Regions from separate parts of the Homo sapiens genome. Here regions 2 and 3 are each linked to region 1. The links come from fine-mapping of genetic effects on gene expression. A gene starts in region 1. Each other region holds a variant in brackets. All regions are shown on one strand. Distances are from middle to middle.

Region 1 (4,153 bases):
CAGTCCAGCCTGGTTGAGGCTTCCAGGCTGAGCTGGCTTTTTCTCCCAAGGCAGAAAGGGCATTGGCTCTAGCTTACAGTCCGAGCAGCCACCCTCTCCTGCTTCATGACTTTGGGTGGACGGGAGTTCTGTCTTCCTACTCCTTGCTCCACAGGGGCTATGGTCCTGCCAGGACAGGTGAAAGGTGATGTCAACTGGCATCTGGCATTCAGCTGGTCTCTGGAGGTGGGTGGAGGGAACAGGGTGTCCGTGGGAGAGACCCTGGCCTGCCGTGGGAATCATGCAGAGATCTCAAGTTATGATTTTCTCTGGCGCAGGGGCTCTTTGGCACACAGAAGATGGGGTAAGTCTCTTCAATGCCAAACATGTGGAGGAAGAACATGTGTGAGCATGGTTTACTTTCTCTCCTAAATATGTATTCAAATAAGTACTTTCTGGTTTATGGAGGGTGAGTTCTAACCAGAAATGAGAAGTAAGTAGCACTGTCAGTCATTGTTAACCTCTTGGCTAGCTCTGAGTAGATTGAGAAAGGGGTGGGAGAAGCATCCTCCAACAACCGAGCACTTCCTGTACATTGACCAGGTAGGTAGGCACGTTGATCACAAACACCTTGAGGGACAGCTTCCAAGTATATGCATTCACAGATGAGAAGCATGCTTCAGACAACACAAAATTCATTTTTAACCCGGCTTTCTTTTGGCAGTAAATTTCTCTTCCTAATCATATTTTGCATAAACTAATATTAGAGTGGATTTGCATTTTCAGAGCACAAGATGGAGGAGTGGTGGAGGCGGTTCAGGTGGGTGGCAGGCTGGTCTGGGCTTTAAAAATTGTCCAGAGGTAACTGAGGAGATGAATCAAACCAGACTGAGCTGACTACTTAACACTAGCAGTCAAGATCATCCTGGCTGGGCATGGTGGCTCACGCCTGTAATCCTAGTACTTTGGGAGGCCAAGGCAGGCAGATCACCCGAGGTCAGGAGTTCGAGACCAGCCTGGCCAAGGTGGTGAAACCCCGTCTCTACCAAAAATACATAAATTAGCTGGGAATAGTGGCGTGCACTTGTAGTCCCAGCTACTCGGGAGGCTGAGGCAGAACTGCTTGAACCCAAGAGGCGGAGGTTGCAGTGAACCAAGATTGCACCACTGCACTCCAGCCTGGGCAACAGAGGGAGACTCAAAAAAAAAAAAAAAAAAAAAAGATTATCCTGATAAAACCAGCCTTGAATATGGAAAGTGTCTTCTAGGGACCCCTCAGGTTATAGATGTTATACCTTAGAATCTCTCTATTTTACAGAGGGGTAAATTGAGGCAGAAAACCCAAAGAAGGCTTAGGGACGATTTTCGAGGCTACTCACTTCATGGTGTTTCTTTCAGAGATTAGCAGCTATTACTGAACTCCAGGAGGCAACAGGAGGGGGATGGGATGGAGGTGGGGACCCGCTGAAGAAGGCCTAGGTGGGAGACAGGTAACGTGGTACAGGTACCCACCCCACAACTCATTAAGGGCCATGGAGGGAGGAAGGCTCTCAAGTGCCACGAAAATTCCCAAAGCAGCAGAGGGCTTGTATGGAAACGCCGGTTATTCGTCCCTACCCGGCCCCCGCCCCCCGCCCCCCCGACTGCCCCTGCCGTCGCCTCCCCGTGGGCAAGTGGTGGGGGCCTGGGCTTACAACCACACGTTCTCCTCCAACTAGCATCCCTTCCAGGGTGCACTAGGATGCCTCTCAGAGGTTCTCCCCCGCCTCCCGAAGGAAAGGGGAAAACCCCGTGGGCGTCCGGAGAGCCTTTGCGCCTCGCCAGGTGGAGGGACCGGCGCCACCCAGACCCGCGAGCCGAGACCCTCCCCGCGGCGTCGCTGCGGGAGGGGCGGAAGAGCGCGGGCGGTGGGCGGGAGCGGTGCTGCGAGGCGGGATCTGCGGGGCGTCCAATCCCCTTCTTCCCCCGCCCGCCCCCTCCCCGCCCCCCGAACGCTTTCCACCAACTGCGCGCGGCAGTGGGCGGGGCCCGTCACGGCTGTCGTCTTGGGTGCGATTTTTTTCTCCTCCTTTTTTTACCCTCCCGTTTTTTTCTTTTCTTTTTTTTTTCCCTATCCTTTTTTTGTGAATGAAAAAAGGAGGTCGCGAGCGGTACCTGGGACTGCAGCGCCAGGCGTCTTCGCGGCAGCGCCTTCGCCGCGGGCCCGGGCGCGTAGCGGCGGCGGCCTCGCCCCTCTCCCGGCGCCCCTGCGCGCCGCCCGCTGCCTCCGCAGCCCGGCTCCGCGCGCCGCCGTGACATTGGGCGCCTGGCGCGCGGGGCGATGCTGATCCGGAAGGGGCAGCGGCTGCAGTGCAGCGCGCGCGTCCGCTCCTGGGCCCACGTCCGGCCTGGGCTGCCCTGCCGGAGTTTCTGAGTGGCCGCGAGCTGGCCGGGAGGCTGGAGCCCAGCAGCAGCGCGGCGGCGCCGGCGTCGTCCCAACTTGCAGGCGCGGAGGGACCCCTGACATTTCACTAAAATGAGCGTGCTCAGCAGGAAGAGATGTGTTCCTCACGCTAGAAGCCACCCCGTCACATGTAGTGGTGTAAGTAGATGGCTGCTTGCGGTTATGGCGGGGTGGCCAGCAGCCCTTGCAGACGCGCCGCTCCGCCCTCCCTGCCCTGCCGCGCCCCTCGCTACGTTCCCCGGGCCCCGCTAGTCCCTGGGCTCTGGCTTCGGCTGCTGGGTACAGCGGGGCTGGAGCCTAATCCTTTCCGGTGTTTCTAGGGAAAGGAAGATGACTTGATTGCTTCGGCCTGTCGTGCCCCTCCCCCTTCTCGATGTTTAAAAATTTTTAAATTTCTATTTTGTGTGTGTGCAGAGTAGCGTGTCAGAAAAAAGGAAAAACGGTCCAGAGTGGTGGGAGTGATTCTGTTAAGAAAACAAACACAAAACAACAGTGGAATTGGGGTGTTTTGCTGGCGGTTCCGGAGCTGGTTCTTTGAACTCAACTCCATTGCAGTCTATGTAACTGAGTTCTGTGAAACTACTGGGGAGATCTTTGGCGGTGTTTGGTGATGTGTCCACATTTTAGGTTTGAGGGGGCTTATCTGTGTTTAGGCTTGCATTTCTTTAATCTGACCATTCAGGGTCCCTTTGGGCCTTGCTTTCTGTTGGATCTGCACGGGGCTTCTTGCAATGCCAGCGACCCCCGTGGGAGCCTCCCCGAATTAGGAGTCCACTCTCTCTTTGTTCTTCTCCTTCCAATTCTCCATTCAATCCATCTCCCTTGATTTTACCTTCATTTTCAGGATTTTCCTCCCATTCCCATTTTGTAAGATGATGTGGGATACTGGTTGCTAGGAGACAAGCCAGGCTCCCAGGGAGATTCTGTTGTTTCCTTGACAACCAGACTAGGGCAGCCACAGATGAACAAGCCTCCTATCAGCTGTGGGAGGGAAAGGGGCCCTTTCTGAGCTCTGCAAAGAGTGTGTGTAGGGGTGTGGGGGTGGGACTGGGAGAGCACGAGGTTTGTAGCTAATTTCAGCACACCTTGGGTTTTGGCTTGCACCAAGTACAAAGAGCTGGGAGAGCGGTGGGCAGGAGGCTGTTTTTGGAGGGGCACAGGGATCATGGGACAGGGATGGAAGGAACACATGCCAGTGACTTTGCGATTGTCATGGAAGAGGAGTGAGTTGGGGGTTGTGATGCCCAGGGCTGGGTGGTGAGGAGGTCATAGTTTATGGAGGTTGATTGAGTGGGGATGAGGCAATTGTGAGGGAGAGTCTGGAGTCAGGGAAGAAGAGAGAGCCGGAGGGAGAGGGGAAGCTGAGAGGCTCACTGAATGGGCTGTATCACCATATATCAGCAATGAGTGGGCTGTATCACCATACATCAGCAATGATACAACATCAGCAACATCCTAGGGCAAAAATTATATTACTCTTGGCACACTCTCTCCAGGACAGGATCCTCCTTTAAGACAGGCCTGATTAGACTAAGAGTTCTAACACTTGAATTGGGCCAGTCTGTATCTTAAAGACAGATATAATTACACATATAGATATGCAATCTAGCATTATATAATACCACATTACATAAGAAGACAAATACCTCCTTTCAGCCCAGCCTCTCTTGGCACAAATTAACCACGGTTCAGGAGACTCTTCCAATGTCTTCATACCCATTTCCCAGAGGG
Region 2 (4,153 bases), 13 kb before region 1:
ACTAAAAATACAAAAATTAGCCGGGCATCATGGTGCATGCCTGTAATCCCAGCTACTCAGGAGGCTGAGGCAGGAGAATCACTTGAACCTGGGAGGCAGAGATTGCAGTGAGCCATTGCACTCACTGCACTCCAACCTGGGCAACAGAGTAAGATTCCATCTCAAAAAAGAAAAAGAAAAAAAAAGAGTGTTTTCAGTTTAGGAAAAAAAAAAAATCTGTTATAGTCATTGGTATAGAATTAGAGGCCCAGACTCATTTTCCTACCCCCACCCCTTAGTCCTTTGATCTTCCCAAATGATCGTGGTTCCCATGGGTGTGGCTAAGAGGGAGTGTTGGGGACCAGTCTCAACACCACCCATAGGGTACCCAAAGTCTGGTGGTGACAAAGGAATGAGAAGAGACAGGTTAAGAGTTCATAAAGGTGGGAGCCAGGGGGCCAGTTGCAAAATGGAGGCTGCAAAAGGCCCAGAGTTCTGGTTCCACACTATTTATTGAGTACAATCACTTCGATCTAAGAAGCAGATGTTCAGGGTGAAACAGTGAAAGGGAGGCACTGCGTCACAGGCGTAATCTATAGCAATAGCGGTTTAAATGAATCTCCTTTGTGCTCAAACAGCGTATCTTTAACTTATCGGAGAGGAGCTAGTGGGAGTGTGCTTAACTAGGAGGCTGCACGTCTGTCCACATTCCAATGCTTCAAAGGAGTGTCTTTCTCCTTGAACACAGTGTTTATAGATAAGAGAGCAGGTCTCGCTCTGAGCATGGGAACATGATGGCAATTAGGAGGCTTTCCTCCTCAGAGGCCTCTTGTGGCTTTCCACAACTTATTGTCCCATATTTTTATGGCCAGTTTATGCAGGCGCCCCACAAGCCCTTTTCCCAACAGGGAGGAAGGTGCGATGGAGGGCTGGAAGCATGCTTTTCCGGCATTCCCTATAGAACATTCCCAGCCAGACCTGCCTGATGAGAAGGCAGAGGATTGACCAGACCTCAGGGTGTGTCTTCACAGGCACTCCAATGCCCCTGACCTGGCCAGCCGTTCCTCTGCCTGGAGTCACTCTTCGGGCTGGAGTTACATGTAAGGGCATTGTTTCTAGAACCCACTCAGGCTCTCCCCTGGCCTACCCACCAGTGCACCCACAGGAGTCAGCCCAGCAGGCGGCACAAAGCCCTTCTCAACAGAGGTGCTAGCAGGCGCAGGAGCAAGGCTGGGACCCCTCAAGCCTGGGAAGCTGGAAGGGGGAAGCAGGTCAAGGACAGTTAAGTAAGAGATGGGAAAAGTAGTTGCCTTCCAGAGGAGTGGAGAACCAGGGGGCCTCTGCCAGTGACTGCAGCGAACATCAGAGACCCATGGGAGGGAACACTGCAAGGACGGTGGACTTCTCTCTCTCTCTCTCTCTCTCTCTCTCTTTCGTATTTAACTGATGAGGCACTTGGTAAGGGGTTGCCAGGGAATGGGTTGCTGGAAATGAATCCAGGTCTTCGATTCCCAGCCCAGTGCATTGCTTTTTTTTTTTTTTTTTTTTTTTCTGGGAGACAGGGTCTCACTCTTTTCGCCCAGGTGTGCAGTGCCTCACTGCAGCTGCAGCCTCAACTTCCTGCGCTCAGATGATTCTCCCACCTCAGCCTCCTGGATAACTGGGACTACAGTCATGGGCTACCATGCCTGGCTAATTTTTTGTAGAGACGGGGTTTTGCTGTGTTGCCCAGGCTGGTCTTGAACTACTGGACTCAAAGTATCCACCCACTTCAGCCTCCCAAAGTGCTGGGATTACAGGCATGAGCCACCACGCCTGGCCCCCAGTGCATTGTTATGGCAATTTTCTTTCTCTCTTCCCTTCTCCAGAATTCTATCCAGGGCCAACCCGTCAAAACATATTGAAAATGGAGAGAAAACAGAGCTCAAGTAATTTGGAGTGACATGGAGGCATGATCACC[T/C]CAGTATAAAGGTCCTTAGCATCCCAAATCAGGAGCTATCAAACCTATAGGACTCACAAAAAGGTAAACTAAGGTCCAGAAATCCACTCCAAGAAGCATAATGGCCAGTCTAGATTTTACACTAGATCAGTCCTGCTTCACATGTCTCCCGGCTGGCCAGCCCCGGATGTCCGGCCACTGTGAGCCGATAGCTTTTCTGCTGTTTGTTTTCTACCTGTGTGCAGGTGAGCAGAAGTAGGAGCAAAGCCTCCTCCCATCAACCAGCAACCACCCCTACCTTGCTTCTTCGTGGCCTTCCCTCTCCCCACCTTCCATGGCCTCTAGCTCAGGTAGCCAGAATTAATTACTGGTGGGGTTGAAGCCATAACTTGTTCCCTGGCTGTAGGCCAGGCTCTCAAGATGTGCGTCAGAAAGGCCAGTGAGTGAAATTCCAAAGCAGTGTGAGTCACCAGGGGCTGAGAAGAACAGGCCAGGACAATAAGAGCAGGATGTGGACCAAAATAGTGCCCTGAGGGCCAGGGGCTGGGCCAGGCATCAAGAATGCTCACCTGGCCAAAGATGGGGAACAGGGCCTCCGGTCTAGGTGGTTTATCTCTGTGCTCTGCACAGCCCTGGACGGGGAACAAAGCCTCTGGCCCAGGGTTTATCTCTGGGCTTTGCACAGCCCTGGAGGAGGAGGGAACTGACCAGCAGGCCGGCCCCCTGGTCACAGGAATCATGTCCTTCACCTGCCTTCCCATAAGCTGGACTTTGGATCCCAGCCCTTAAAACCCTTGTGTTGTTTCTTCCTGCAGACCTGGTCGAGAACACTACTTCAGGACAGGGAATAGTGACAGGCCAGCAGAGCCCCAGAGGCGAGGTGGCAGGTAAGTCTACAATCCTTGGGCCCTTGCTCTGTGCCCAGGGAAAAGAGAGGGATCTCCAAGCCCTGGCTTCTCTAACCTATCTTCACCTGGTCACTCACAGCACTGCACAATTTCCAGTTCTCAGAATCAGATTTCTTCCAAAGGAGGGATGTGTGAAGGGAGCACGAGGGGTGGGGGCAATCAGCAATCAGGAATCTTCCCCATCAAGGTGCGGTGGCCCCTGGACTGTGGCCCAGCAGCAACCTGTGGCAGCCAGATCTGGGGCAGGAGGTGGAGGGCTTCCACTCGTCATGAGGGTGTCCAGGGGGAGTGTCACCAGTCGCCATGTGCCAGCGGCAGGCCTGGATGCCACTCTCTCCTTGTGACCCTGGCCAGGACGGAACGGAAGGCCCCCAAGATCAAGTAGATGACACTGCACCCCACCCCCCACAACCCACTGAATCCTATCCATCCAGAGGGGTCACTGGCCAAGGGGAACACAGGAACAGCTTGTGATAAAGGGCCGCCTAGGCCCTCATGCCCACTCTATCTCCTGCCCCTCCCCAACTGAAGGCTGCTCTCCAGCATCTCTGTTGTCCTGCTCCTTCCCCTTTTTTTTTTTTTTTTTTTTTTTTGAGATGGAGTCTCACTCTGTCACCCAGGTTGGAGTGCAATGGCGCAATCTCGGCCCACTGCAAACTCCGCCTCCCGAATTCAAGTGATTCTCCTGCCTTAGCCTCCCATGTAGCTGGGATTACAGGGGCCTGCCACCATGCCTGGCTAATTTTTTTGTTTTTTTAATAGAGACAGGGTTTCAGCATATTGGCCACACTGGTTTCGAACTCCTGACCTCAAGTGACCCGCCCACCTCGGCCTCCCAAAGTGTTGGGATTACAGGCGTGAGCCACCGCACCTGACCTCCTTCCCCCTTTTCTTACTACTCACTCCCACGTCCTGGGTGGCCCATTCATGGCTCCACCCAACTCTGGGAGCTCCCCATCCTTCAGGCAGCAGGATCCATTTATCAAGAGAAACTGAGCAGCATCCCTAATCCTCTCCCTCTCTTGCCCTCAGCCCCCCAAATTTTGTTCCTTTCTGTAGCCACACTTGGCCAGGAGCTCTCAGGCTTACTGTAGGAATTCCTTCCAGGGCAACAGAGACCCCCAACCACTCCCCCACCCACAACCCAGCCAGGCTGCTGTCACTTCCTCGCAAAGGAGTAGCTGAATGGGTCACCCTGGCTTTTGGAAGGGTTGGGGCTGAGACAGATGCTAGCGAGGCTATGATAACTCAGACAAGGGGCTGAGGCTGATAGCCTCCACCGACACAGGTGGAGAAGGGCACGGGCTCTGCAGAAGTGGCAGCTTGG
Region 3 (4,153 bases), 130 kb before region 1:
ATAGGATCTAGCCCAGCCCGGCTGGCAGGGGTCCAGGGTAGATTTGGCTGTTTGATAAGTGGCTGCCGACAGAGTTGAAGCCACTGCCCCAGATGTTGGGGGTTGGGTCCCCCTCTGTTTAGCTGCCTTGTCAGTAGAGAGGGAAGACAGACCATGAGGAGCCATTGTGAGCATCTTTGCAGGTCAGAAATGTCTATGCTTTTGCTGCTGGAGACGGGAAAACACCCCCCTGGTTTTCTCTTCTTACTGCTTTTTAGTAGTGAGCAGTCAAGGTGTTTGGGGATTTGTCTTTGTGATTGTCTCTTCAGTGTGATTTTTGGTAGCCTGGATTTGTTCGCCTGCTTTCAAGCCTCCAGGGAGTCTCAGAAAAGCTGCTTTCCTCTGGGTGTGCCCGGTGTGTGTGCTGCCTGCCTGCATTCTCTCCAACTCCCCAGTAAGTCCTGGGTAGAGGTAGGGGTGGGAGGAATTGGGTTTTATTTTTCCTTTTTATTCCCCACAGAACTCAGCCCAATTTCATATACACAAACAACCCTGAACTCTAAACCCATCTGCCCAACATCTGTGTGCCTGACCTCTCCAGCAGGATGTCAAACAGTGTAAACAAAACATGTCCCCCTGACCCCTAAACCTGCTCCTATCCCTCTCAACTAATGGCAACTACGTCCTTCCAGTGGCTCAGGTCAAAAATTTTTGCATCATCTAGGATTCCTCTTTATCTCACCCCCATATCGAATCTAGCAGGAAATGCTGTTGGCTCAATATCTGACCACGTCTCACCGACTTCACCTCCTCTGTCATCTCCTACCTGGATTATCACACTTAGCCTCCTTCCTTCCTTCCATCTGGGCATCCTGGGCAGCCTGTTTTCAACATGGTGGCCAGAGAAGTCGTGTTCAAACCTAAGTGAGGTCATCTCGCTCCTCTACTCAAATCCTTCCCATGGCTCCCCATTTCTCTCTGAGCAAAAGCCACCAGACCCTACAGGATCTGCAGATACCACCCCAAAATCATCCTACATCTTTCTCCTCCACGCTACTCATTCCAGCCACACTGGCCTCCTTGCAGTTCCTTAAACACACCAGGCACTCCCCTGCCTCATGGCCTTTGTACTGGCTGGCCCCTCTGCCTTCTTTCTCTGCCTTCTTGGTTCCATCTTCATCCTCTTTGCTTAAATATCCCTTTCTCAGTGAAGTCCACTCTGCCATCCTATTTATGTTGTAAATGTCCCCTGTGCCAGTGCCTCTTGTCTCCCTTGTTCTGCTCTTACACTGGACTGGGTTCCAGATCGCTGTATGGTATACTTGTGTATGTTTTTCCCTATATATATTTATGTTTGTTTATTTATTTTTGTGTATGTCTCCCCTACCAGAAAGTGAGCTCCACAAGACTTGGGGCTTTGTCTCGTTCCTTCACAGATGCGTCCTCAGGACTTAGTGCCGGGCACAGTGCAAGTGTTTAAAGAATAAACAAATGTGGGTTCAAAGTGAAAGGTGGTTACAGGCTCATGGACTTTCCCCAGGAAGCCATGCTCCCCCATAGCTGCTCTTGTTTTGGGCACCTCTTTCATAAGGAGCTGTGAATCTGCTGGACACACAAGAAGAGGGAACAAAACTGAAGGAGGCCACAGACTGGGAGAAAATACCCATGGAAAAAGACATACTTGATAA[T/C]GGACTGGGATCCGAAACATACAAAGAACTCTGAAAACATAACCATAGGAAAATGAATAACCCAATTAAAAAATGGGCAAAAGATCTGAACAGACACCTCACCAAAGAAAATATACAGGTCCCAAAGAAGCATATGAAAAGGTGCTCATGATATGTCACTAGTGAATTGCAAATTAAAACAACAATGACATACCACTATACACCTATTGGAATGGCCCAAATCCAGAACACTGACAACATCAAATGCTGATGACGATGTGGAGCCCTAGGAACTCTCATTCATTGCTGGTGGGAATGCAAGATGAGACATCTGCCTTCAAAGACAGTTTGGCAGTTTCTCACAAAACTAAGCATACTCCTAGCATACAATCCAGCAGTTATGCTCCTTGATATTTACCTAAAGGACTTGAAAACTTAGGTTTCAAGACACAAAACCTGCACCAGCCAGCCTGGAACAAATCCAGGCTTCACACAAAAACCTGCACACAGATGTTTATTCATAATTGCTAAAACTTGGAAGCAACCAAAATGTCAATGAATGGTTAAATGCACCATGGCACATCCATGCAATGAAATATTATTCAGCACTGAAAAGCAATGAGCTACCAAGCCATGAAAAGACGCAGAGGAATCTTAAATGCATATTACTAAGTGAAAGAAGCCAATTTAAAAAGATTACATGCGGTAGGATCCTAACTATACAACATTCTCAAAAAGGCAAAACTATGGAGATAGTAAAATATCAGCAGTCGCCAGGGGTCAAGAGTGAGGGAGGGGATGACTAGGTGGAGCATAGAGGATTTTTAGACAGTGAAATTGCTCTGTATGATATTACAATTGTGGAGACTTGTCATTATACATTTATCTAAACCTATAGAATGTACAACACCAAGAGCGTAACCTAATGTAAAGTATGGGCGTTGGGTGAGAATGACATGTCAATGTAGGTTCCTCAAATGTAACAAATGCACCCCTCTGGTGGAGAATGTTGATAGTGAGTGGTGGGGAGTGGGGGAATGGGAGGAGTCAGGGGTGTATGTGGGAACTTTCTGCAGCTTCTGCTCAGTTTTGCTGGGGACCAAAAACTGCTCTAAAAAGTAAAGTCTATTGAGAAAAAGTTGAATGGGCCACAGGTCTTTTCAAACAGTAGATCTGCAGGCTCTAAATGGCTACTTCTCACCTATCCAGAGAAGCCCTTGGGACCTCTGCCAGAGAAGGGGTTTTGTTTTGGAGCAACCCTCACCTCAAGATTCTCAGGATCAAAGATGGCCATTGATGAAGGTGGAAAGGGAACGTTCTGGAGGATCCTCTACAGATGCACTTGGACTTGTTTCTTTCCTGCTCAACCCAGGAAAATAAAAGAAAGACTTCCTATTGCTACGCCTGACCCCCAATCCCAAAGTTGGGTGAAGCAGGATCCTTTAATCCACTGAAATGCTGCTGGGCCCTGGGGGTGAGGGGTCGGGGGTGGGTGGAAAAAGAAGCAGGAAGAGCTGGGATAGGTGACCCCGGAAAGCAGGAGCAAGAGTCCAGCCTCTGTCTAGAAGCGAACATCAAACAACCTACTGGTTTCTCTCTGACAGCAGTTCTGTCCTAAGGACAGTTCCCCTCTAGGCTTGGGCCCACATTTTGCACCCCCATCACTGTTGTGGGAAATGTAGTTTCATTTCTGCCCATGGGCACTAAAGGACCTAGGAAGACCTCTCTGGAATAATAATAGTCACTACAGATTTAGCTCCTCGTCCTGTACTAAGAGATTTACATCTATTATCATAATTAGTCCCCATAACATTCTTTTTTTTTCATTTTTATTTCTATTTAAATAGGTTTTAGGGTACAGGTGGTTTTTGGTTACATGGTTAAGTTCTTTAGCAGTGATTTCTGGGATTTTTTTTTTTTTTTTTTTTTAAGACCGAGTCTCACTCTGTTGCCAGACTGGAGTGCAGTGGTACGATCTTGGCTCACTGCAACCTCCAACTCCCTGGTTCAAGCTATTCTCCTGCCTCAGCCTCCTGAGTAGCTGGGATTACAGGCACGTGCCACCATGCCCAGCTAATTTTCGTATTTTTAGTAGAGATGGTTTTCACTATGTTGGCCAGGATGGTGTTGATCTCCTGACCTCCTGATCCACCCGCCTCGGCCTCCCAAAGGGCTGGAATTACAGGTGTGAGCCACCGCGCCTGCCCTGATTTCTGGGATTTTAGTGCACCTGTCACCCAAGTAGTGTATGCTGTACCCAGTATGTAGTCTTTTATCCCTCACTCCCAACCTCCCCCCGCAAGTCCCCAAAATCCATTATATCACTGTTATGCCTTTGCATCCTCATAGTTTAGCTCCCACTTATAAGTGAAAACATATGATATTTGGTTTTCCATTCCTGAGTTATTTCACTTAGAATAATGGCCTTTAGCTCCATCCAAGTTGCTGTGAAAGACATTATTTCATTCCTTTTCATGGCTGGGTAGTATCCTATGGTATGTATACAC

Which allele goes with the higher level. Alleles are on the strand shown, and positions count from the first base shown. SD is a standard deviation of normalised expression in the study named.
With allele T in place of C in region 2, the expression in lung of the gene that starts at base 2,260 in region 1 is higher (small effect, 0.26 SD a copy in GTEx).
For the expression in testis of the gene that starts at base 2,260 in region 1, C is the high allele of the variant in region 3 and T is the other (small effect, 0.25 SD a copy in GTEx).

What was found. PIP is the estimated chance that this variant, and not a neighbour inherited with it, causes the effect.
Region 2: its variant is the best candidate, but not a certain one, in a credible set for the expression of RHOBTB2-AS1 in lung (GTEx, PIP 0.76).
Region 3: its variant is the best candidate, but not a certain one, in a credible set for the expression of RHOBTB2-AS1 in testis (GTEx, PIP 0.89).

What each region holds. Positions count from the first base shown.
Region 1 is chr8:22,997,546-23,001,698 of GRCh38, forward strand. RHOBTB2-AS1 (RHOBTB2 antisense RNA 1) reads right to left here and starts at 2,260. Exons shown (of 2, transcript XR_007060857.1): 1 at 2,134-2,260. RHOBTB2 (Rho related BTB domain containing 2) reads left to right here and starts at 2,003. Exons shown (of 10, transcript NM_015178.3): 1 at 2,003-2,560. RefSeq lists silencers at 1,683-1,942, 2,163-2,332, 2,663-2,712.
Region 2 is chr8:22,984,759-22,988,911 of GRCh38, forward strand. All of the region lies in intron 1 of RHOBTB2-AS1 (RHOBTB2 antisense RNA 1), which reads right to left. It also overlaps a transcript of RHOBTB2 not described here. Among named protein-coding and RNA genes, the nearest start is that of RHOBTB2, 13 kb to the right of the region's middle. RefSeq lists an enhancer at 2,934-3,690. The variant T/C (reference allele first, on the strand shown) is at 1,940.
Region 3 is chr8:22,867,999-22,872,151 of GRCh38, forward strand. The region is part of intron 3 of PEBP4 (phosphatidylethanolamine binding protein 4); the gene reads right to left. Among named protein-coding and RNA genes, the nearest start is that of PEBP4-AS1, 7.9 kb to the right of the region's middle. The variant T/C (reference allele first, on the strand shown) is at 1,668.